3 linked regions of the Homo sapiens genome follow. The protein of the gene in region 1 purifies or fractionates together with the protein of each later gene. This does not show direct contact. Each region holds a gene or a part of one and is shown in the gene's direction. Other genes may lie near its edges.

Evidence for each region.
Region 2: the proteins of USE1 (region 1) and SCFD1 purify together in Homo sapiens (affinity purification with mass spectrometry; 5 studies listed by BioGRID and IntAct, with this or other methods). This does not show direct contact.
Region 3: the proteins of USE1 (region 1) and BNIP1 purify together in Homo sapiens (co-immunoprecipitation; 6 studies listed by BioGRID and IntAct, with this or other methods). This does not show direct contact.

Annotation. Positions count from the first base shown.
Region 1 is NC_000019.10:17,209,269-17,219,918, forward strand, and holds USE1 (vesicle transport protein USE1), read left to right. Parts: upstream 1-6,088; 5' UTR 6,089-6,137; coding exon 6,138-6,239; intron 6,240-6,533; coding exon 6,534-6,583; intron 6,584-6,723; coding exon 6,724-6,802; intron 6,803-6,900; coding exon 6,901-7,053; intron 7,054-8,184; coding exon 8,185-8,194; intron 8,195-9,095; coding exon 9,096-9,123; intron 9,124-9,944; coding exon 9,945-10,119; intron 10,120-10,362; coding exon 10,363-10,545; 3' UTR 10,546-10,561; downstream 10,562-10,650. Other genes in the region: MYO9B (unconventional myosin-IXb), read left to right, coding at 318-441, 1,065-1,112, 1,447-1,580, 2,379-2,506, 2,627-3,042.
Region 2 is NC_000014.9:30,730,295-30,737,840, forward strand, and holds the end of SCFD1 (sec1 family domain-containing protein 1), read left to right. Parts: intron 1-4,495; coding exon 4,496-4,564; intron 4,565-5,291; coding exon 5,292-5,315; 3' UTR 5,316-5,556; downstream 5,557-7,546. UniProt on the Homo sapiens protein: Plays a role in SNARE-pin assembly and Golgi-to-ER retrograde transport via its interaction with COG4. Involved in vesicular transport between the endoplasmic reticulum and the Golgi.
Region 3 is NC_000005.10:173,161,507-173,166,377, forward strand, and holds the end of BNIP1 (vesicle transport protein SEC20), read left to right. Parts: intron 1-566; coding exon of another isoform or gene 567-639; intron 640-805; coding exon of another isoform or gene 806-818; exon of another isoform or gene 819-854; intron 855-2,218; coding exon 2,219-2,415; 3' UTR 2,416-2,881; downstream 2,882-4,871. UniProt on the Homo sapiens protein: As part of a SNARE complex may be involved in endoplasmic reticulum membranes fusion and be required for the maintenance of endoplasmic reticulum organization. Also plays a role in apoptosis.

The DNA of each region.
Region 1 (10,650 bases):
CCCTGGGACAAACTGCCCAGCAGCTTGTACTTCTCTGCGAGGCAGGATAATTCCCACCCTACTGGTGACTAAGGGGTTCAGTTCACTCTGACCCTCCTTCAAACAAGGAGGCGTGCAGAGACAGGAGACAGGCTCAAAGAGGTAGAGTGAGCTGCCGAAGGTCACACTGCATGGGAGCTGGCACAGCCGTGTCCCAGGCACTGCTTGGTCTCTGAGCCTCAACCACTGCCCCCCAGGCACCAGCTAGCATCTCCCTGGACCTCAGACGTCCCCGGGGCGGTAACTGAGTCACTTCCTCCCGTGGGCCTTCTCTGTAGGTGCGTGGAGATGCTGATCAAGGAGCAGATGAGGAAATACAAAGTGAAGATGGAGGAGATCAGCCAACTGGAGGCTGCAGAGAGTATCGCCTTCCGCAGGCTTTCGCTCCTGCGACAAAATGCTGTGAGTACCGGTGATCGTGGGGGCGGGACCTCTTTGGTGGGGCGGAGCCTGGTGCTGGGCAGGGCCTTGGGCGTGGCTTTGTTGCTGGGAAGGCTGGTGAGTGGGGTCTTGGTGGGCGGGGCCTTGGGTGGGCAGGACCTCCCATGCCGAGGATGGGACCGGGTAGTGGGTGTGGTCTCGGGTAGCAGGGCGGGGCCTCCCTTCCCAGTTCCCCGCCCACTCCTACCACACCCTTGGCCACAACCAGCCTGGCTGGGGCCACCAGGCCCTGCAGGTAGGGGCAGACTTACTGCCTTGAACGAAAGACGATGGTCCTCGCTCAGCCTCACTCCAATTATGTTCCTCTAGGTGGGGCAGGTAGGGGGACCAGCTTCCTGCTTGCTGGTGGTTCAGGTCATGCGTCCAGCCTTGTCCCTTCTGACCTGGGCCCTACCCACGGGGAAATGTTCCCATAGCAGAAGAATCAGCCCCACAGTGCAGGGGTGTGTTAGTGGGGAACGGGCTCTGGGCTCCTGTGGGAACCAGGGACCCCCTATCTTGGTACCGGTCATTGGATGTATCCCCAGCTCATGCCTGTGTCTGTCTTGGCCCGTGTGGTCACCCTGTGTTCATCTCTCTCCCAGCCATGGCCTCTCAAACTGGGGTTTTCGTCTCCCTATGAGGGGGTCCTGGTATGTACGCGTTCGGTGGGCCCGCGGTGCATGTCTCCCGGTGCAGTGCATGCTGGGGTTCCCTGGGGCCCTGGGCCCCTCGTAGGATAGACAGAGCCTGTCCTAACCTTCCGGAAGTGCATGCTGGGGAGGCCCCTTGCCTGCTGACCTTCTGTGCTCAGGACGACTAATCGGCCACATGACCACCACTCTGTCCCATGGGATTCCTAGAGAAGTCTCACTAAGAGCCCAGCACACTCACATCACAACTAACCTCCTGGGATCTGCTCACACCTCCGGCAGTAACCTCGCCCACTCAGAGATGTCAGTGGGACCCCTTGCTTCTTTGTTTCAGAACAAGAGCCCCAAGACCCGGGACATCCAGGAGGAGGAGCTGGAGGTGCTGCTGGAGGAGGAGGCAGCCGGCGGCGATGAGGACCGGGAAAAGGAGATTCTCATTGAACGGATCCAGTCCATCAAGGAGGAGAAGCAAGTGGCTCAGTCCCCTCCCTCAGTCCTTCATGTTTAGGGCAAGCTGGAGTGCAGGTTCCATCCCTGGTGGTCCGCTTGACCTCGCCAGGTTTGGTCCTGTCATCCCTAACACTGGGCAAACAACACTTTTTTTTTTTTTTTTTTTTTTTTTGAGACGGCGTCTCGCTCTGTCGCCCAGCTGGAGTGCAGTGGTGCTATCTCGGCTCACTGCAACCTCCATCTCCCGGGTTCAAGCGATTCTCTGCCTCAGCCTCCGAGTAGCTGGGATTACAGGTGCCCACCACCATGCCCTGCTAATTTTGTGTTTTTAATAGAGACAGGGTTTCACCACATTGGCCAGGCTGGTCTTGAACTCCTGACCTCAAGTGATCCACCCACCTTGGCCTCCCAAAGTGTTGGGATTACAGGCGTGAGCCACCGCACTCGGCCTTTATTTCTGAGACAGGGTCTTTCTCTGTCACCCAGGCTGGATTGCAGTGGTGCGATCACGGTTCACTGCAGCCACAATCCCCTAGGCTCACGGGGTCCTCCCACCTCAGCCTCCCCAGTAGCCGGAACCACAGGTGGTGCACACCACCACGCCTGGCTAATTTTTTTTACTTTTTGCAGAACAGGGTCCGCCTATGTTGCCCAGGCTGGGTTCAAACTCCTGGGCTCAAGCAATCCTCCTGCTTGGGGTGGGGGGAGGTTGGGGACACAGAGTTACATCTAGGAGCAGGACAGCCTGCTCTGTTCCACACTGGCCCAGCACTTCCGGTGGGGTGGCCTTGGACACCACTACCCTTTTTCCTCCAGGGAGGACATCACCTACCGGCTGCCGGAGCTGGACCCAAGGGGCTCGGACGAGGAGAACCTGGACTCGGAGACGTCGGCCAGCACCGAGAGCCTGCTGGAGGAGCGGGCCGGGCGGGGGGCCTCGGAAGGTCAGTATTAAGGTAGCGTCTGCTTTTCTCCTTCCCGTCCATCCCAGCAGGCCCCAGGGCGAGGGTCCTCCGGCTGCCGGCCCTGAAGCTGCAGTAACCCTGCCATCTGTCTCTCAAAAGGGCCCCCTGCGCCTGCTCTCCCTTGCCCCGGCGCGCCCACCCCGAGCCCCCTCCCCACCGTGGCCGCCCCTCCACGACGAAGGCCGTCGTCCTTCGTAACGGTCAGAGTGAAGACCCCCCGGCGGACCCCCATCATGCCCACGGCCAACATCAAGCTCCCACCAGGCCTGCCCTCCCACCTGCCTCGCTGGGCACCGGGTGCCCGGGAGGCGGCTGCCCCAGTGCGGCGCCGGGAGCCACCTGCCCGCCGCCCGGACCAGATACATTCCGTGTACATCACGCCCGGGGCAGACCTGCCAGTGCAGGGCGCCCTGGAGCCCCTAGAAGAGGATGGCCAGCCACCTGGGGCCAAGCGGAGGTACTCGGATCCCCCAACGTACTGCCTGCCCCCCGCCTCGGGCCAGACCAATGGCTGAGAGCCACAGCTGACAAAGTCTGCATGTCCGAGGACGGCCCCTGCACTGGAGCTGGGCGCCAGAGCTGCAGAGCTAGTGTTCGGCCCTCAGAGAAGGATCCAGAATCAAAAGCTCAAGAGTGACGTGAGGTGGGCACCGGCCCCAAGTGCAGAGTCAAGGCAGGGAGAGGCCGGCTGGAGCCAGGCCCCCTCGCACGCAGCCCCCAAATCATGGACGCACCTGTGGGGAGCACCACATCTCCACCTGCGGCCTCACATCTCCCCACTCCCCTTTTTGTACGTTTAACTGTTTCTTTGTACGTGGTTTACGTAACTTTAAACTGTAACAGCCTTAATGGAAGACCAAATGGTTTTTTATATGTGTATGTACAAAGTTTTCTATTAACGCTGCCCGTCTCCCTTATAACCTGGACGTGAGCTGTCAGAGCAGAAGCCACTAGGCCACTGCGCGTCTGAGGCTCAGACCCTGCTGTGGTTGGCTTGGGGTGGCCAATGGGCTGGGACCCTCCATGAGAGTTTTGGACACTTGGGTCACCTGACCCGTGCCTCTCTGACACATGTCTCCGGGGGGCAGCCACCTGGCCAATGTGCATTTTTGCACATGCTGGAACCTTCCATGGGGGTCTGGGCTATTGGCTGGAGCCAGGACATGAGTCAGGGGCACCATGGACCTCACGTGCCAGGGAGACTTGAATGTGGCTGTCACTCTTCCGGACGCCAAGGGCTGCAGGAGGCTGCTTTTGGCACTACCCACCCCGTGTGACAGAATAGGAGCCAGCGACTCAGGACTGCTCACGGGTCAGGAGGGCAACGCCTGAAGTCAGACCTCCCTATAGGTCAACAGGGACAACCTGGGGATCTCTGGAGCAGGGCCCTCCTCTCTCAGGCTTGGCCCACTCCCCCAGACACCTGGACACGTGGCCACAAATCTGGGACAAGGGGCCCCCGCACAGCATGAAATAAAAAGTGCCTGAGAAGTGTGTGCATGGGACGCCTGCTCATATGGGATCGGGCTTGGAAGAACAGGGCCGGTGGGTGGGGGTCTGCCCTGTGGCCTCAGCCAAGAAGGGTGCAGAATATGGGTGGAACACTGTCCTCAAAGTTCTGTCTTGATCCTCCACCAAACAGGGAGCTCCCAGCAGAGCCTCACTTGGCCAGGAGCGCCTGCTGTCCTGGCAGCCCTCTCTGGCCTCCCTGATTCAGTGCCCAGCCTCTGGAGCCTAAATGTCAGCTGCAGCAGCCACCCATCCAGCAGAGGTGGCCAGTTCCTGGTGGGCCCAGCAGGACAGGAACAGATGGGCTCCCAGGCTGCCATCGGATGGGAGTCGTGGGAACTGGCTGGCTGGTATTGGTTGGGGCACCGTGAAGAACCCAAGTTCAGACAGCACATGCCAGAGGTTGAGGGGCTTCTCCAAGGCCACACAGTTGGGAGGGGCATGGCTGGGATTTAGACTCTGCCCTGCCAGCCTCTAGAGGCCCCTTTGATGGGCCCTGGGTTTGGTCTCCATTGTTTGTTGTGGGTTTTTTTCTTGAAACACGGTCTCGCTCTGTCACCCAGGCTGGAGTGCAGTGGCGCGATCTCGGCCCACTGCAGCCTCCACCTCTCGGGTTCAAGCGATTCTCCTGCCTCAGCCTCCCGAGTAGCTGGGATTACAGGCACGCACAACCAAGCCCAGCTAATTTTTGTGTTTTTTGATAGAGACAGGGTTTCACCATGTTGGCCAGGCTGCTCTCCAAACTCCTGACCTCCAGTGATCCATCCACCTCACCCTCCCAAAGTGCTGGGATTACAGGCGTGAGCCACCGCACCTGGCCCTCCATGGTATTTTCTTTTTTTTTTTTTTTTTTTGAGACGGAGTCTTGCTTTGTTGCCCAAGCTGGAGTGCAGTGGCACAATCTCGGCTCACTGCAACATCCACCTCCTGGGTTCAAGCGATTCTCCTGCCTCAGTCTCCCAAGTAGCTGGGATTACAGGCACCCACCATCACGCCCGGCTAATTTTTGTATTTTTAGTAGAGACGGGGTTTCACCATGTTGGCCAGGCTGGTCTCAAACTCCTGACCTCAGGTGATCCATCTGCCTCAGCCTCCCTAAGTGCTGGGATTACAGGTGTGAGCCACCGCACCTACCCGTCTATGATATTTTTCAAGGACATCAGGCCCACTGGTGTAACCAAGGTGCAGATGACCTAAGGTGTGGGAAAACATGAAGGCTGCATGCCAGGCCCTGGTTCCTGTGAAGCCCCCACCCTCATCCTGTCACTCCAGAAGAGAGGCACTGCAAGGCATAGGGGTACTCAGCTTCCAGGTACTGAGGTGGGCTGGGAAGGGGTTCTCCATGGGGGTCTGGGCGTTAGGGGGGACCCAGCCCCACCTTGCTCACTCTCAGGCAGAGCTGTCTCATGTGCCCCTTGAGGCAGGTACTGTCACACTGTCCATTTCCCGGGGGAAGAAGCGGATCCAGAAAAGTTAAACTCTCCCAGGGCCGAGGATGGAATCAGAGCTGGAGCTGTGACCTGGAAACCCATAACCACAATACAGATGAGCCCTGCTGAGGTGGGGGAAGCCTTGGATTCCTGAATCCCAGGCTACAGAAATCGGGAAGGGTGTGTGGACGTGAAATAGCTCCGACTGGGAAGAATCCAGGTAGGAGTGGGGTGCGGGGAGGTACTTTGAGCAGGCAAAACAGAACAAAAGGGCACACTGCACGCGGGTCTGACACCAGAAGACCCCGGTCGTCCTATCATTCCCGAAGGGTTAACATGCTCTCGAGGAAAAGCAAGTGATTCGCCTAAGTAAGAATGGGGTGGCGCCTCTCCTATTTTTTTAAAATAGAGATAGAGTAGCGCTATCTTGCCCGGGCTGGCCTCAAGCAATCCTTTCCCACCTCTGCCTCCTAAAATGCTGGCATTACAGCCCTGAGCCACCGCGCCCGGCCCAGCGCCCCGTCTCAAAACAAGATATTACTTCCGCTCCAAACAAAGATGGGCCAGCTAACGAGCGCGGGGGAAACATCCGCCCGGAAGGCCACTTGAAGGCACTTCCGCCCTCTCTTAACATGGAGCCGGCGGAAGGGGTGGTGTAGGGCCGGGCGATAATGGCGGCGTCGAGGCTGGAGCTAAACCTGGTGCGGCTGCTATCCCGCTGCGAGGCGATGGCAGCGGAGAAACGGGACCCGGACGAGTGGCGCCTGGAGAAGGTGAGGGGATCTCGCACTGCCGCGTAGAGCCCGACTCCCGGGGGGTGATTCCTAGGGTTGGAAGCCACCTGGCCCGACTCCCCGGCCCCAGTAGCCTCTCGGGCAGCGCCCTTTCCGGTCAGTCCCGCCACGTCCACCTGTAGCTTCCGCCCCCGTCCCTGGGACTCCGCCCCTCCCCCACTGGCCCCGCCTCCTTTACGCTTGACCCCTCCCATTTGTCGGCCCCGCCCCCCCGACTCCCATGATCAGGACATGGGAAAGACCCCCGGGTGACAATCCACTTTTCCTCCCCAGTACGTGGGAGCCCTAGAGGACATGTTGCAGGCCCTGAAGGTCCACGCGAGGTGAGTGCAGGCAGCCTCAGGGCTTTCACATCAGCACGTGGCTGTGCTACTGGACATCCCAGTACCGCTATCCCAGCTGGGACCCTTCCCTGAGCTGGGGACCATGGACAGGTTTTGTTTTTCTTCTTCCTGCCTTCCAGCAAACCGGCCTCTGAGGTGATCAATGAATATTCCTGGAAGGTGGATTTTCTGAAGGGGATGCTGCAAGCCGAGAAGCTGGTGAGAAGGGGTGCCCCTGCCCCCTCAGCCCCCATCACCGCTCACTTTGGTCCCCAGGACCTGCCCCTCCAGTGACTTATCTTCCCACATTTCTGCAGACCTCCTCCTCAGAGAAAGCACTGGCCAACCAGTTCCTGGCCCCTGGCCGTGTGCCAACCACAGCCAGAGAGCGAGTGCCCGCCACAAAGACGGTGCATCTGCAGTCACGGGCGCGGTACACCAGCGAGATGCGGAGTGAGCTACTAGGCACGGTAGGGCTCCTTCCCTGGTCCCTGGGAATCCCTTGGACAGGAATAGGGGTTCTATGCTTGTAGGCAGCCAGAACCACAATACTGTCAGATACAGGAACCCTAAGGGGGTCCAGCAATCTCTTCCCTGGGTCATCACACAAGGCTGCCCAACAGAGGGGCATTGTGGCTAAGGCTTTGCTAGATGAATAGGAATTTGGTACAAGGCAAAAATGGAATGTGTCTGGTTAAGCCCCAGAGTTGGCCCAAGAGCAGGGTTTGAGTCCTGGCTTGCAACTTACAAGACACATAAGTTTCTTCAGCCGTAAAAGAGGATGACAAGTTCCTTTCTGAGCACTTTATGTGGATCAGCTCAATCTTTTAAAATATGAGTTGTTGTGGCCAGGTGCGGCAGCTCACGCCTGTAATCCCAGCACTTTGGGAGGCCGAGGCGGGCGGATCATTTGAGGTCAGGAGTTAAGACCAGCCTGACCAACATGGAGAAACCCCGTCTTTAGTAAAAATACAAAATTAGCTGGGCATGGTGGCTCACGCCTGTAATCCCAGCTACTCGGGAGGCTGAGGCAGGAGAATCGCTTGAACCCAGGAGGCAGAGGTTGCGGTGAGCTGAGATCAAGCCATTGCACTCCAGCCTGGGCAATAAGAGTGAAACTCCGTCTCAAAAAAAAAAAATATGAGTTGTCGTTACCAGTTTAAGGTTGAGGAAACAGGCTCAGAGGTCATGGGATTTCCCCATGTCCTGACTGAAGGTGAGGAGGTTGAGGTCAGAAGGGACAGGTTTGGGAACAAGACAAGGGGGGTGACTTCATGGCATTTACTTTTTTTTTTTTTTTTGCGATGGAGATTCGCTCTTGTTGCCCAGGCTAGAGTGTGGTGGCGCGATCTCGGCTCACTGCAACCTCCGCCTCCCAGGTTCAAGCAATACTCCTGCCTCAGCCTCCCAAGTCACTAGGATCACAGGCACCCCCACCACACCTGGCTAACTTTTTGTATTTTTAGTAGAGATGGAATTTCATTATGTTGGCCAGGCTGGTCTCGAACTTCTGACCTCAGGTGATCTGCCCACCTTGGCCTCCCAAAGTGCTGGGAGTGAGCCACTGCACCCAGCCTCATGCCACTTACTTCTTTCCACAGGACTCTGCAGGTGAGTCACCATGAACACAACAGGACTTGAGGGCCAGCTGACTAGGACAAGACATGTATCCTTGCTGCCCCGGGGCCTCCATGCCGAGACTCCATGCCCTGACTCCAACAGGAGCATCACCAAACTACACCTGGAGGAAGAGCCAGGACAGAGGAAATGGCCCCGAGAGGAAACAAAGCTAGGCACAGTGGCTCACACCTGTAATTTCGGAGGCTGAGGCAGGTGGATCACCTGAGGTCAGGAGTTTGAGACCAACCTGGCCAACATGACAAAACCATGTCTCTACTAAAAATACAAAACTTAGCCGGATGCAGTGCCACGTGTCTGTAGTCCCAGCTACTCGGGAGGCTGAGGCAGGAGAATTGCTTGAACCCAGGAGGTGGAGGTTGCAATGAGCTGAGATCACACCACTGCACTCCAGCCGGGGCGACAGAGCAAGACTCCGTCTCAAAAAAAAAAAAAGCAAAAAAATTAGCCAGGCGTGGTGACGCACACCTGTAGTCCCAGCATACTTGGGAGGCTGAGGCAGGAGGATTGCTTGAGCCTGGGAGGTAGAGGTTGCAGTGAGCTGAGATTGCGCCAGTGCACTCCAGCCTAGTTGACAGAGAGAGACTCTGTCTCAAAAATAAGCAAATAAATAAATTTTTTAAAGCTAGGCACTCCCAGCCTATGGGACCAAGGCTAGGCTGGAGGGAGGGACCTGGGGTCTGAGGGAACCGAGACAGGAGTAAGGAGACCCTCCTAGAAGAGGGGGTATTCAAGCATGGTCAGAAGCCAACGGGGCAGCAGACAAGATGAGGAAACAGCATTCCAAGCAGTAGACCCAGCACAGGCAATGCTCAGGATGCCGGAAACGGGAAACCAACACTCGCCTTTTTTGCTTGGCCTGTTTTGCTTTCAGAGCCTGAGATGGACGTAAGGAAGAGAACGTGAGTGTCTGCGGCCCTGGGGCAGTAGTGGCAATTGGGCGGTGCGGCAGGGACGGGGTAGCAGTGGCCAAACCCTGGACCACCGAGGCACTACCACAAGGATCTAAACCAACCAGAAGCCACTTCTGTGGATGCTCTTCCCAGAAGTCAAAGGCCAGGCGCAGTGGCTCACGCCTGTAATCCCAATACTTTGGGAGGCTGAGGCAGGCAGATCACCTGAGGCCAGGAGTTCAAGACCAGTCTGGCCAACATGGCAAAACCCTGTCTCTACTAAAAATACAAAAAATTAGCCGGGCATGGTGGCATGCGCCTGTAGTCCCAGCTACTCAGGAGGCTGAGGCAGGAGAACTGCTTGAACCTGGGAGGTGGAGGTTACAGTGAGCCGAGATCACGCCATTGCACTCCAGCCTGGGTGACAGAGCGAGATGCTGTCTCAAAAAAAAAAAAAAAAAAAAGGTCGGGCGCGGTGGCTCACGCCTGTAATCCCAGCACTTTGGGAGGCCGAGGCAGGTGGATCACGAGGTCAGGGGTTCGAGACCACCCTGACCAACATGGTGAAACCCTGTCTCTACTAAAAATACAAAAATTAGCTGTGCATGGTGGCAGGTGCCTGTAATCCCAGCTACTCAGGAGACTGAGGCAGGAGAATTGCTTGAACCTGGGAGGCAGAGGTTGCAGTGAGCCGAGATCATGCCACTGCACTCCAGCCTGGGCAACAGAACGAGACTCTGTATCAAAAAAAAAAAAAAAGAAAATGTGTTGGTCTTCTCCCCTTTCCCACTCCATCTCTCATGTCCTCCTCCCCCCGTGTGTGAAATCAGTGGAGTGGCAGGGTCCCAGCCAGTGAGTGAGAAGCAGTTGGCAGCTGAGCTAGACCTCGTCCTGCAGCGACATCAGAACCTCCAGGAAAAGCTGGCGGAAGAGATGCTAGGACTGGCCCGGAGCCTCAAGACCAATACCCTGGCCGCCCAGAGTGTCATCAAGAAGGACAACCAGGTGTGGGGACTGGGGGAGCTCTCCAGCCTCTGCCCTGGGGCATCAGAGAAGGCTTCCCAGCACAGGAGCATTGTGGCTGGGGCTTTGCGGGATGAATAGGAGTTTCGTAGAAGGCAAAAATGGCATTCCCAGCAGAGGGCACAGCACCAGCAAGCGACAAGAGGTGCAGGCCAGTCCCAGGGAAGTAGAGAGAGGCCATTCTTGGCCCCAGTCCTGTTGACACCTTTTCCACCTCCCCCACAGACCCTGTCACACTCACTGAAAATGGCGGACCAGAACCTGGAGAAACTGAAGACGGAGTCAGAGCGTCTGGAGCAGCACACGCAGAAGTCAGTCAACTGGCTGCTCTGGGCCATGCTCATTATCGTCTGCTTCATCTTCATTAGCATGATCCTCTTCATTCGAATCATGCCTAAACTCAAATAAAGACCCCCGCCCACCTTGTCTGTCTTCCGTCTGTCCCCTGCCCCCATCTAGCAGTGCCTTTCAGGCTGGCCAATGAGATGGGAGGGTTTTTGGAGGTCCCTGAAG
Region 2 (7,546 bases), on another chromosome or scaffold:
TGTGAATAGTGCCGCAATAAACATACCTGTGCATGTGTCTTTATAGCAGCATGATTTATAATCCTTTGGGTATATACCCAGTAATGGGATGGCTGGGTCAAATGGTATTTCTAGTTCTACATCCTTGAGGAATCGCCACACTGTCTTCCCCAATGGTTGAACTAGTTTACAGTCCCACCAACAGTGTAAAAGTGTTCCTATTTCTCCACATCCTCTCCAGCACCTGTTGTTCCCTGACTTTTTAATGATTGCCATTCTAACTGGTGTGAGATGTATCTCATTGTGGTTTTGATTTGCATTTCTCTGATGGCCAGTGATGATGAGCACTTTTTCATGTGTCTGTTGGCTGCATAAATGTCTTCTTTTTAGAAGTATCTGTTCATATCCTTCGCCCACTTTTTGATGGGGTTGCTTTTTTCTTGTAAAGTTGAGTTCTTTGTAGATTCTGGATATTAGCCCTTTGTCAGATGAGTAGATTGCAAAAATTTTCTCCCATTCTTTAGGTTGCCTGTTCACTCTGATGGTAGTTTCTTTTGCTGTGCAGAAGCTCCTTAGTTTAGTTAGATCCCATTTGTCAATTTTGGCTTTTGTTGCCATTGCTTTTGGTGTTTTAGACATGAAGTCCTTGCCCATGTCTATGTCCTGAATGGTATTGCCTAGGTTTTCTTCTAGGGTTTTTATGGTTTTAGGTCTAACATTTAAGTCTTTAATCCATCTTGAATTAATTTTTGTATAGGGTGTAAGGAAGGGATCCAGTTTCAGCTTTCTACATATGGCTAGCCAGTTTTCCCAGCACCATTTATTAAATAGGGAACCCATTCCCCATTTCTTGTTTTTGTCAGGTTTGTCAAAGATCAGATGGTTGTAGATGTGTGGTATTATATCTGAGGGCTCTGTTCTGTTCCACTGGTCTATATCTCTGTTTTGGTACCAGTACCATGCTGTTTTGGTTACTGTAGCCTTGTAGTATAGTTTGAAGTCAGGTAGTGTGATGCCTCCAGCTTTGTTCTTTTTGCTTAGGATTGACTTGGCAATGCAGGCTCTTTTTTGGTTCCATATGAACTTTAAAGTAGTTTTTTCCAATTCTGTGAAGAAAGTCATTGGTAGCTTGATGGGGATGGCATTGAATCTATAAATTACCTTGGGCAGTATGGCCATTTTCAGGATAATTGATTCTTCCTATCCATGGGCATGGAATGTTCTTCCATTTGTTTGTGTCCTCTTTTACTTCGTTGAGCAGTGGTTTGTAGTTCTCCTTGAAGAGGTCCTTCACATCCCTTGTAAGTTGGATTCCTAGGTATTTTATTCTCTTTGAAGCAATTGTGAATGGGAGTTCACTCATGATTTGGCTCTCTGTTTGTCTATTATTGATGTTTGGGAATGCTTGTGATTTTTGCACATTGATTTTTGTATCCTGAGACTTTGCTGAAGTTGCTTATCTGCTTAAGGAGATTTTGGGCTGAGATAATGGGGTTTTCTAGATATACAATCATGTCATCTGCAAACAGGGACAATTTGACTTCCTCTTTTCCTAATTGAATACCCTGTATTTCTTTCTCCTGCCTGATTGCCCTGGCCAGAACTTCCAACACTATGTTGAATAGGAGAGGTGAGAGAGGGCATCCCTGTCTTGTGCCAGTTTTCAAAGGGAATGCTTCCAGTTTTTGCCCATTCAGTATGATATTGGCTGTGGGCTTGTCATAAATAGCTCTTATTATTTTGAGATACGTCCCATCAATACCTAATTCATTGAGAGTTTTTAGCATGAAGGGCTGTTGAATTTTGTCAAAGACAAAAGGCATTTTCTTAAGTTCATTTTTGGATTCCTCATTCCAAGTGCATAAAAATCCAACCGATTTTTATGTTGATCTTACGTTTCACAGCCTTGCTGAGTTTATTAGTTCCAATTGTTTTTAATGGATTTTTAGAAGTTTCTATATACAAGATCATGTTATCTATTAATAGAGATAGTTTTGCTTCTTTTCTATCTTCTGCAACTGCCCTGGCTAGAACCTTCAGTACATTGTTGAATAGAAGAGGCAAGAGCAGACATCCTTGTCTTCTTTCTCATCATACGGGCAAAGCATCTAGTCTTTGACCATTATATATTTTATTACATTATTCATAGATGCCCTTTAGATCCATTAAATTTTTAGTAGCTACTAAGCTCCCCAGTTTATTGTCCTGAGAGGATTTTTAAATCCCTTTTAGTTTTTTTGTCCTGAATAATCCTAATCTTTTCCCTACCATTCAGCCCTATTAAGAAGGAACTGAGCTAGGTCTATGACAGCCTTCCTCACATCATTAGAAACCTGTGTCAGTACAGTCTCGTAGTATGAAACTAAACATGCGACTATGCCTACATGAGACTGGCAATACAGAATTAACTAACATGGCCCTTGGTTTATACTAGTCCACAACATAAGGGGCAAGTGCCAGAAAATACTGCTGTAATTCTGATTTATTTAGTAATGTTGTTAATCTAACTCACAATGTAAATGCTATTTGGTATAACTTTGGTATAATTGGTAAAAAATAATTTGACTGATTTTATCAAAACATTTGATAATACTAATATTGATGAATTGGGAACTTGACTTAAAACCACAAGGTATTCTCTTGATGGAAGGTGATTGGTTAGAGAAAGAACTACACTGAGTTAATTTTACATTGAATCAATATACTGGTACATTTTATAAAGTTCGATTTTTTTTTCTTTTTTTTTTTTTGAGACAGAGTCTCATTCTCTCACCCAGGCTGGAGTGCAGTGGCGCAGTCTTGGCTCACTGCAACCTCTGCCTCCCGAGTTCAATCAATCAGTTCTCCTGCCTTAGCCTCCTGGGTAGCTGGGATTACAGGCATGCGCCACCACACCTGGCTAATTTTTGTATTTTTAGTAGAGATGGGGTTTCACCATGCTGGCCAGGCTGGTCTCGAACTCCTGACCTTGTGATCCACTTGCCTCGGCCTCCCAAAGTGCTGAGATTACAGGCATGAGCCACTGCGCCCAGCCCATAAAGTTCAATTTTTAACTGACAGAGTAAGTAAAGGGGTCATCAAGCTTGTACATGATTAAGAACAAGTTTGCACTGGAATGTTTGGTAAACTACAGTGTTTCTTTAAAATTACACCTACACTTCATTGGATGGCTAAAAACGATTAGAAAAGAATGATGATGAGTAATTTGGTTAAGAAAGCTTGGTCCAGGGTGGGGACTGTACAAGTCAGGATTAATCTCAACTGGGCTACTGTACCCCTGTGCTTATCTCCAAGAATACCAGGATCCATGGTGCTGATGTTTAGCCAAACCTGAATGAAGTATTAACTAGTGATGAATTCTGGGCCTGGGCTAGAGACTACGATAAACCAGGGGGCAACCTTGGGCTGGCTTGCCAGCATTGTTTAATAGAAAATGTAAAGATTGATTTTACATTTTTCACCTGGTTTCTGTCATGTTCCCTTGGTTTCTGCAGTTGAGCCTGGTCATGCTGGTCATGCAGCCCAATTTTGCCTACCTGACCAGAGAGGCATAAAAGACCTCTCCTTGAACAAGAATCAGGTTCTCCTGGGAGCTATGCCTAGAAGTTCTGGACCCCTCTAATGTTTCCCTGTGCCTGCTTTCTCCTTGCATACTGTGACCTCTACCTTTAATTAATGCCTGTTAGCCACAAGAATCCCAATTATATGACCCATATACCATCTCATTTTGAAAAAAATATGAGTTGTGGCTTTTGTTTTATTTATTCTCAGAGATGGCCATCTAGGACATGTATTCAGCCAACAATATTTGCTCAGCTTATACATCACAGAGTTGTGTTACAAAGCCATCATTCCTCTGTCCTTTGATGAATCCTCAAATTACTTTGTTCTAGAATAAACTTTTTTATATTACAAAAGAAATCTCATGAATTTACCTTCAGGTTCACGATACATACAAGAAATTAGCAAATCGCTAATAGAGAAGTTTTGGCTGTTGTGATTGGGTTCCAACATTGTAACTGTGACTTTTATTCCTGATGTTGACAATGTGGAATGAGATGTATTAACTTATAAATACTGTGTTGCTCAAGTGAGACTAAAAGCACAATCCATGCCACCTGCACCATAGCCCACTTTCAGCATAAAGAAACTCGAATGTATTCTTCAAGTAGTACACATCCTACATTGGAAGAATGTTGTTCTAAGATTTTATAGGTAACTGTTGCTCCTGTGAAATTTGACAGTGAGATTCCTTCTATTTTTAGTGTAATAGGAAATGGCACCAATAGTATGCCATAGTATATATTTTGGGGGACAAAAATACTATGCTCATTTCACCACTTTATTCCTCTTTATTTCATGCAATTTTAGGTAGATGTGTATACTAAAATCCAACAGTATCCCAAAGAAAGACTGTTAAGAATAACAAAAAAACTAGCATATTAATCTCTTTTCTTGGGAATATTGAATATATTTCTTGTTACTTGTATCTAAGTTCTGACTCTGATTTTTACAGGGGAAACAAGGCAAACACATTTTATATGGCTGCAGTGAGCTTTTTAATGCTACACAGTTCATAAAACAGGTAAAGTATACATTTGTTGTTTGTTTCTGTTAACATACCCCTAGTTGCTATTGGTATTTTTCAAAAGAGAGAAAGAAAACCACTTACTCACCTGAACCAGCCGAAACCAAAGCCATCCAGCTATACCAAGATAAGGTGTTTTCATGGACGACTAAGAAAACCTTGATAAGTAATAATGTTTCCAGTAGGAGTTTGCCCATCCTTCCAGAACTGAAAGCCTTTTCTTTGGCTTTTAATGATCCTTTAGAAATACAAAAATATATGAGAACTGTCAGTAGTGTGTCACTCATGACATTTCTCTTTATATTGTCACAAAGTTAGCACTAATTTTTTTAATTCCCAGGGTTTTTCTTTTCCATCAATTGAACGTTACCTAATAATGTTTACATTTCTTTACTATGACGACGTTTATTGCAATTCCATTTTCTTTTCTTTTTCTTGGTAGAGACAGTCTCTTGCTATGTTGCCAAGGCTGGTCTCAAACTCCTGGCCTCAAGTGATCCTCCCACCTCAGCCTCCCAAATAGCTAGGATTACAGGCATGAGCCACCATGACCAGCCTTCAGTTTTAACATTTGAGTTAGTGGTGAACATTAAGATTTATTATTCTAGGAATGCAGTGAATAAAATAGGAAGTGTAATTTATTAAGGGGTTTACAAATATGTTTGAATGTTTCTTTTATGATCTTTTTTAAAAGTTTTATGTATGATTTTGTGTTTTGTTTTAGTTGTCACAACTTGGACAAAAGTAACACAGAAGAACCTTACTATGATAATCTACTTGGAATGTGGATAAATGTAAAAAGAAGAAAAGTTAGAAGAGCAATATGTTTCCTTCTCTGTAACAGTGTCCTAACAGTGAAAATCAGAGTTATTTGTTAATTTTTAAGGAAATTATATACTTAATATGTATTGATTAAAAGAAACATTTCAGAAATAAAATTTCAACATTGTTCATTTTCTCTGATAAATCAGAAAGTACTAATATAATAACTAATAGGTTATGATTGAAGCTGGTGACATTTTAAGGTTATCATATTTAAATTTTATTTGATTGGTTCGTGAGTCCCCTACTTGTATGCATTTTAATTATACAACTACTTTCTCATAGTTTGTTGGGTATCCATGTTGCCTATAGATTTTAGATGGAGATTTTAAGCCACTTTAAGTTCCCTTCTTCTGGCACACCTATGTATATTTTATCACATAAAGTCCCTCCTTCATGTAATGGTGATCAAGGCAACACTAACATGATTTGGAATGGACAAATACAAAACAGTCATCTCATAAAGTTGTAAATAATACGTAAAAGTTAGTGTTAAACTTGATTCCAAGCTTCTTTGGTATGCAGTACTGACAAGAAGTATTGATCAGTCATACCGTTCAGTACGTCTGTAAGATAAAAAGCAAGCCAATTGCTTGAAAGGGAAGAAAAATAAACACTTCCTATTATAAAGGCCAGGGAGCCTTCCCTCCTAATGAGCCTCATATCAACAGGAATCTGTAATGTTACTGACAATACATACAAGATTCACAGGTCAAGAAAAATAATTCTAGATAGGTAGGGGTCTGTTAATCTGACTGACTTATTCCTGAGACAAAAGTGTGTGGTGGAATGGAAGGACTGAGAATACATCAAGCAGTTTTTGTAAGTAACATAAGTAACGTTTATCCTATGCAGCCAGCTAGTTAAAGTCATATCCCTAAAAAAGGATCCTAGAAAGAACACAATCCCCAAACAGTAAGCCTCTCTACCTCACTGGGGTATGAGCTGAAAGAAAGAATCTCTAGTCAGGGTCCAGATTATATTTTTTTAACTTAATACAGACACAAGTAATCAGGGTACTAAAGTTTGATGACACCAGTAATTATAGCCTAGAAAAAAATGTTATAGCAAATGTAATCAAATACTAACCTTGGCTGTTAAAAAAAAGCACTGTGGAAATGTGTTCAGGACAAACACAAAATGGCAGAGAATAGCTCACACCAAATACGATATTTCCTCTCTTAGTGCCAGCAATGTGCATCACCCATTTACTTTATTCAGTGTTCATCAAGCTTGCAAAACTTTTACACTGCTCCTGACAGTGTACTAATAGTATTTGAAATGTAATTTCAGGACTTTCCCTGCACATTAATTTGTTTAAATGTTGTTATACTGAGTCTTTGAGACATAAATATAAATATTCCACACATAAACATGAAAAATCTCTCTCTTCAAGCAATAAATTATGACATAGGGCTAGAGAGGAAAAAAAGATGAAATTTAGGTATAAAATTCAAGATCCTTTCTATAAAGAAAACACTGGGCCGGGCCCGGTGGCTAATGCCTGTAATCCCAGCACTTTGGGAGGCCAAGGCGGGCAGATTGCCTGAGGTCAGGAGTTCGAGACCAGCCTGGCCAACATGGTGAAATCCTGTCTCCACTAAAAATACAAAAATTAGCTGGACGTGGTGGCAGGCACCTGTAATCCCAGCTACTCAGGAGGCTGAGACAAGAGAATCTGTTGAACCTGGGAGATGGAGGTTGCAATGAGCCAAGATCACACCACTGCACTCCAGCCTGGGCTGCAAGAGCAAAACTCTGTCTCAAAAAAAAAGAAAAAAAGAAAACATTAACTGGAGAAAGATTTAGTGAGCGTACAGATATAAAAGATGTTAGAAAATACTTAAAGGATAGAAAAATATAAAAGCATATTTGAAAAAAACTAGAAGTTAAAAATAAAATACCTAAAATTTAACTCAGTGGATAGTTTAGCAACAGATGAAATGTGACTAAGAAGAAAATCTGAACCAGAAGATGGAGCAAAAGAAATTATCTGCAATGTAACACAAAGAGATAATGGAAGCAAAGGAAAATAAAATAGATGAATAATGGGAAGGTCAACCAGACTGGGCAACAAAGGGAGCCCCCCACGCCTACAAAAAATAAAATTACCCGGGCTTGGTGGCACGTGCCTGTGGTCCCAGCACTCCAGCCTGG
Region 3 (4,871 bases), on another chromosome or scaffold:
AACACAAATGCTGGTGGCTTCTGGGGTGTTGAGAGGGTCCCGGTGTTCTTGGGGCCCATTTTGTACAAGCGATAACTATTGAAGAAAAGAGAAGAATACAGTTCTTAACCCTTTCCTTATGCCTCACAAATTCAGCTTGATTTAAAAGCCTACTAGGACCATAATTTTAAAACAAAAAGCTTATTAGGAATATGGTGTCTGGAATTTGCTCCACAATTGCAGGAGTAGTTGCAGTTGGGGGGAGGGGGAGCAGGATTTCAGAGGTTGGTGGTTCTTGGTTATGGGTGGTGGACACATGGCATTTCATGATATTATGCTGTCTGCTCTGTGATGGTTCAAAATTCTCCGTAATAATAAAGTTTAAAAAGAAAGGCCTATTAGATTTTTACTTAGCAAGATCTCAGGGTTTTGAAATCGCAGCAGGCAGGCGTGGAGAAAGCAGGCGGAGAGGGATTCCTGTTCTGTGAGTGTTTGTTTTTCTCCTTTTATCTGTCATTTTCAAAACGCTGCTGTGTTTCCTCTGATAATTTATCCTATTTACTTATTAGCTTTTAATTTTTAAAAAGGTAACACATACAGCATAGAGAAGGATAAGAAAACTCTAGCCCAGGACTGCCATAGAAACGCAACAGCAGCCACGTATGTAACTTTAAATTTTCCAGTAGGCACATGTTAAAAAGTAAAAAGAAACATAAGAAATTAATTTTAGTAAGATGTTTATTTAACCCATTATGTAAAATATTATAATTTCAATGTAAAACTAATATTAAAAACTATTGAGATATTTTACATTCCTTTTTCTTAGATTAAGTCTTTGAAACATCGTGTGGATTTTGGCCAGGCGCGGTGGCTCATGCCGGTAATCCCAGCACTTTGGGAGGCCAAGGCGGGCAGATCACTTGAGGTCAGGAGTTCGAGACCAGCCTGACCAACATGTTGAAACCCTGTCTCTACTAAAAATACAAAAAGAAAATTAGCTGGGCGTGGTGGTGCATGCCTGTAGTCCCAGCTACTGGGGAGGCTGAGGCAGGAGAATCATTTGAACCTGGGAGGTGGAGGTTGTGATGAGCCAAGATCACGCCACTGCACTCCAGCCTGGGTGACAGAGTGAGACTGCATCTCAAAAAAAAAAAGAAAAGAAACATTGTGTGGGTTTGACACTTACATCTCCTGACATCTCCATTTGCATTAGCCACGTTTTTCTATGCACAGCAGCCTCGCATGTCTAGGGGCTGCCATATTGGTCAGCACAGCTCTGGAGAGTACAAAAGGGACACAAAAAAGATCACTCTCTGTTCTGACCTCCAGCTGACCCCTACCTGCCAGCCCTCTGGTCCACTTCCCAGAGGCAACCTCTGTAACCAGTGTCTTAAAAAATATCTTGTGATCCTCCAAGCTTTTGTAACTTAAGCAAATGAAATACCATTTATCTCCCTGTTTCTTACCTAAATGGAAACATTTCACAGGCGTTCCTTTATACTTTCCCTTTTCACTTAATGTGTTCTATTCAATGGCTGTTCTGATGATGCCTTGCTATGTTTTGTGGGAGAACCTCGCCAGGTACACCTTCTACCCTCAGCGTCAGGCCCAGATACCCATATTCAGAAATACATCTGACTCTGGGGACAGTGATTCCTTAAGGGACGTGGGCCTCTTCTTAGGTGTCACCTCCTTAAAGCTACAGCCAGTATCCCTGGCCTGAGGGACTGGTATGTGTGAGGGCTTACGGCAGAGCCCGGGACACCCTTGCCCTTTTGAGATCCTGCAAAGTGCCGGTCTGGCCAGCAGATGTCCTGGAGGCCGCACCTCATAGGTGGAAGGTTCTGGTGCATTTGGCTGCTGCCCCAACACAGACCTCACAGTGCCTGCCCACGATCCCTGGGTTGATTTTGTGGCTGGTGGTTTCCCTGAGCAGCGTCCATCTGCTTCAGAGAGCTGAGGAGGTGGCTGGGTGAGCAAGCCTCTTCTGCCCTTCTCCCTGGTGACGCTCATGTTCAAGGACTCCCAGACAAACCCCCCCTCACTCTCTGGAGCTGATGGGACCTGGGGAGGAGCCTTTCCTTGTCAGCTCCTTGGCTGGTCTCCACATGCTTTGATTCCAGCTCAGAGGAACTCACTTGAGAATGCTGGTTTTTATCAGCACCCCAGCCAGCAGAGTGAGGTCTTTGGATCTTGAGCTGCAGTCTCTGAGTTGGGCCTCCTTCCTCTTTTGTTTCAGTCACTTCTTCACGAACGATCCTGGATGCAAATGAAGAATTTAAGTCCATGTCGGGCACCATCCAGCTGGGCCGGAAGCTTATCACAAAATACAATCGCCGGGAGCTGACGGACAAGCTTCTCATCTTCCTTGCGCTAGCCCTGTTTCTTGCTACGGTCCTCTATATTGTGAAAAAGCGGCTCTTTCCATTTTTGTGAGATCCCAAAGGTGCCAGTTCTGGCCCTTTCAGCTCCTGTTTCAGGATCTGTCCTGGTTCCTGAGCTCTAGGCTGCTAAGCTGAGCCACACACCCCTCCGTTTGCACCAGTTGCCTGCAGGTTGGATGGAACACAGTGCCCCACTTTTCTGCAAGTAGCTGGCTTGTAAAGGGTGAACAGAGCCATGGGAGGAAGGTCTGGCATTGGGATGCCGCCCTGGGGACATACGAACCGCCTCCTTCCACCATTGTGCACTATGGGAGGCCGCTGCTGCGTGGAGCACTTAAAGTCCAGCCTCCAGGACCGGATGCCCCTCCTGTCTCCCGCTCCCATCGTGCCCTTAAATGCCAGATCTGGTGGAGGGAAGAGAGAAGAGGTAGGAAGAAAGGTGATGAAAACTCCTGGTCATTCCTTGAATAAACTTGATTTTATTTAATAGAATAAAATGTATTTGATTTTGTAAGATAGCCCTCTGGGAATGTGTGTTCCTCTTTTCTTTTTTCTTTTTTTTTGAGATGGAGACTTGCTCTATCATCCAGGCAGGAGTGCAATGGCGCAATCTTGGCTCACTGCAGCCTCTGCCTCCTGGGTTCAAAAGATTCTCTTGCCTCAGCCTCCCAAGTAGCTAGGATTACAGGCACACACCACCATACCCAGCTAATTTTTGTATTTTTTTAGTAGAGATGGGGTTTCTCCATGTTGGCCAGGCTGCTGTCGAACACCTGACCTCAGGTGATCCACCCATCTTGGCCTCCCAAAGTGCTGGGATTACAGGTGTGAGCCACCATGCCCAGCCCTCTTTTCTTGATGTCCAGATTTTTAGGACATGAACCTAGATTATTTATTTATTCATTCATTCAACAACGAATTAGCATTGTTATTTTCTTTCTGTCCCCACCCAACAACAAGGAACTATTAAACAGCTGCCACACACAGGGTGTTATAGACGCTGCTGAACATGACAAATACATTGGTGAACCAGACATGGTTCCTCCCTCAAGGAGGAACAGAAGGAGACACGGAAATAAAATCTCACAGACTATCAGGAAGGAGGGTCCAACAGCCCCTGTTCAACCAGGTGTGGTGGCTGATACCTCTAATCCCAGCATTTTGGGAGGCTGAGGCAGGATGATCACTTGAGCCCAGGAGTTCAAGACCAGCTAGACAACATAGCAAGACCCTGTCTGTATTTAAAAAAAAAAAACAAAAAAACAGAAACAGAACAGAAAACAGCCCTTGTTGGAAGTGGCTCACACCAACATCTGAAAAGGCTGCAATGCCATTCTCTACCACAGCAGCCTGGCCAGGCCTGGGGGTGTGCAGTGATTCGGGCTGGCACATGCCTTTCTCTCTGATGTCCAGAGCTAAGTATAACCAAGGAGGGAGAAGCTAGTGAGAAGCTGAGACTGTGTGAGCCTGAGTTCTGTCCAGGCCAGAGGGAGAGGGCCCAGGCTAGGCCAGTCCTAGAGGTGCTGTGTCTTTTGTGCTGCAGGCCTGGCTGACCTCAAGCTTGAAATCCCAGCCTCCCCCACTATTTATAGCCCCAGAGGACCTGGGAAGGGCAGTGTGGAGGCTGAAGGGAAAGTGGGAAGAACATGGACTTTGATCCTTGGCTCAAACACTTGGTTTTGAGATTTGGCTCCACTGCTAATGGACCACAGGACCATTGGCAAGTTACTTTATGTTGCTAAGCCTCAGTTTTCCTATCTGTAAAATGGAGGTGATAATCCATATGGGTCCTCATAGAGTCAACTTGAGAATCCAATGAGAATATAAAGCAGCAAGTGTAGCTAGCTGTCTTCAGACCAGGCCTGCCATGGCCTTTCCAAATGCTGCCACCCCCTGGGCCCTGGGCACTGAGGTTTCCTGCAGCTGACAGCAGCGGTGCTTCAGGAAAAGCTGGGCCAGGCACCAGCATTCTGTTAGAGGTGTTTGAGCAGAGGATGTCAAGAGTTAAGGCCTCAGTTATAAAGTGGCAGATCATCATGGGACCAAGTTATAAAAAACTAGCTGCACATCTCAGACCAGCTTAATGAGTGGATTCCAAGTTAAAGTGTGGATCTAAGTATAGATCCACACTGTGTACACACACACACACACACACACACACACACACATAATTTTGTAGGCTGTATATCATCCTTAAACAATTCCTGGCCCCAAAAGACACTCGGTGCAGATTGTGCACACATGTGTCTTATTTATAGTCAAATTAAAGCTGAGAATAAAGCACAGATGGGAAATTCCCACTCAGATTCCAGCTGTAAGTGCAGCAGATGGATGTTATCAAGTTCAGATTTTCTTGTCTTAACATTTTTCTTTACTGCTTCCCACTAATTGTCAACATCCTCCTCACAATATGGAATTGCGTGGGCTCTGTATGCCCTAAAATTGCTCCCTTTGACACTTTATTCCTCTTTTACTTGCCTCCTCCTGAAAATAGAGTTGAATGTGACC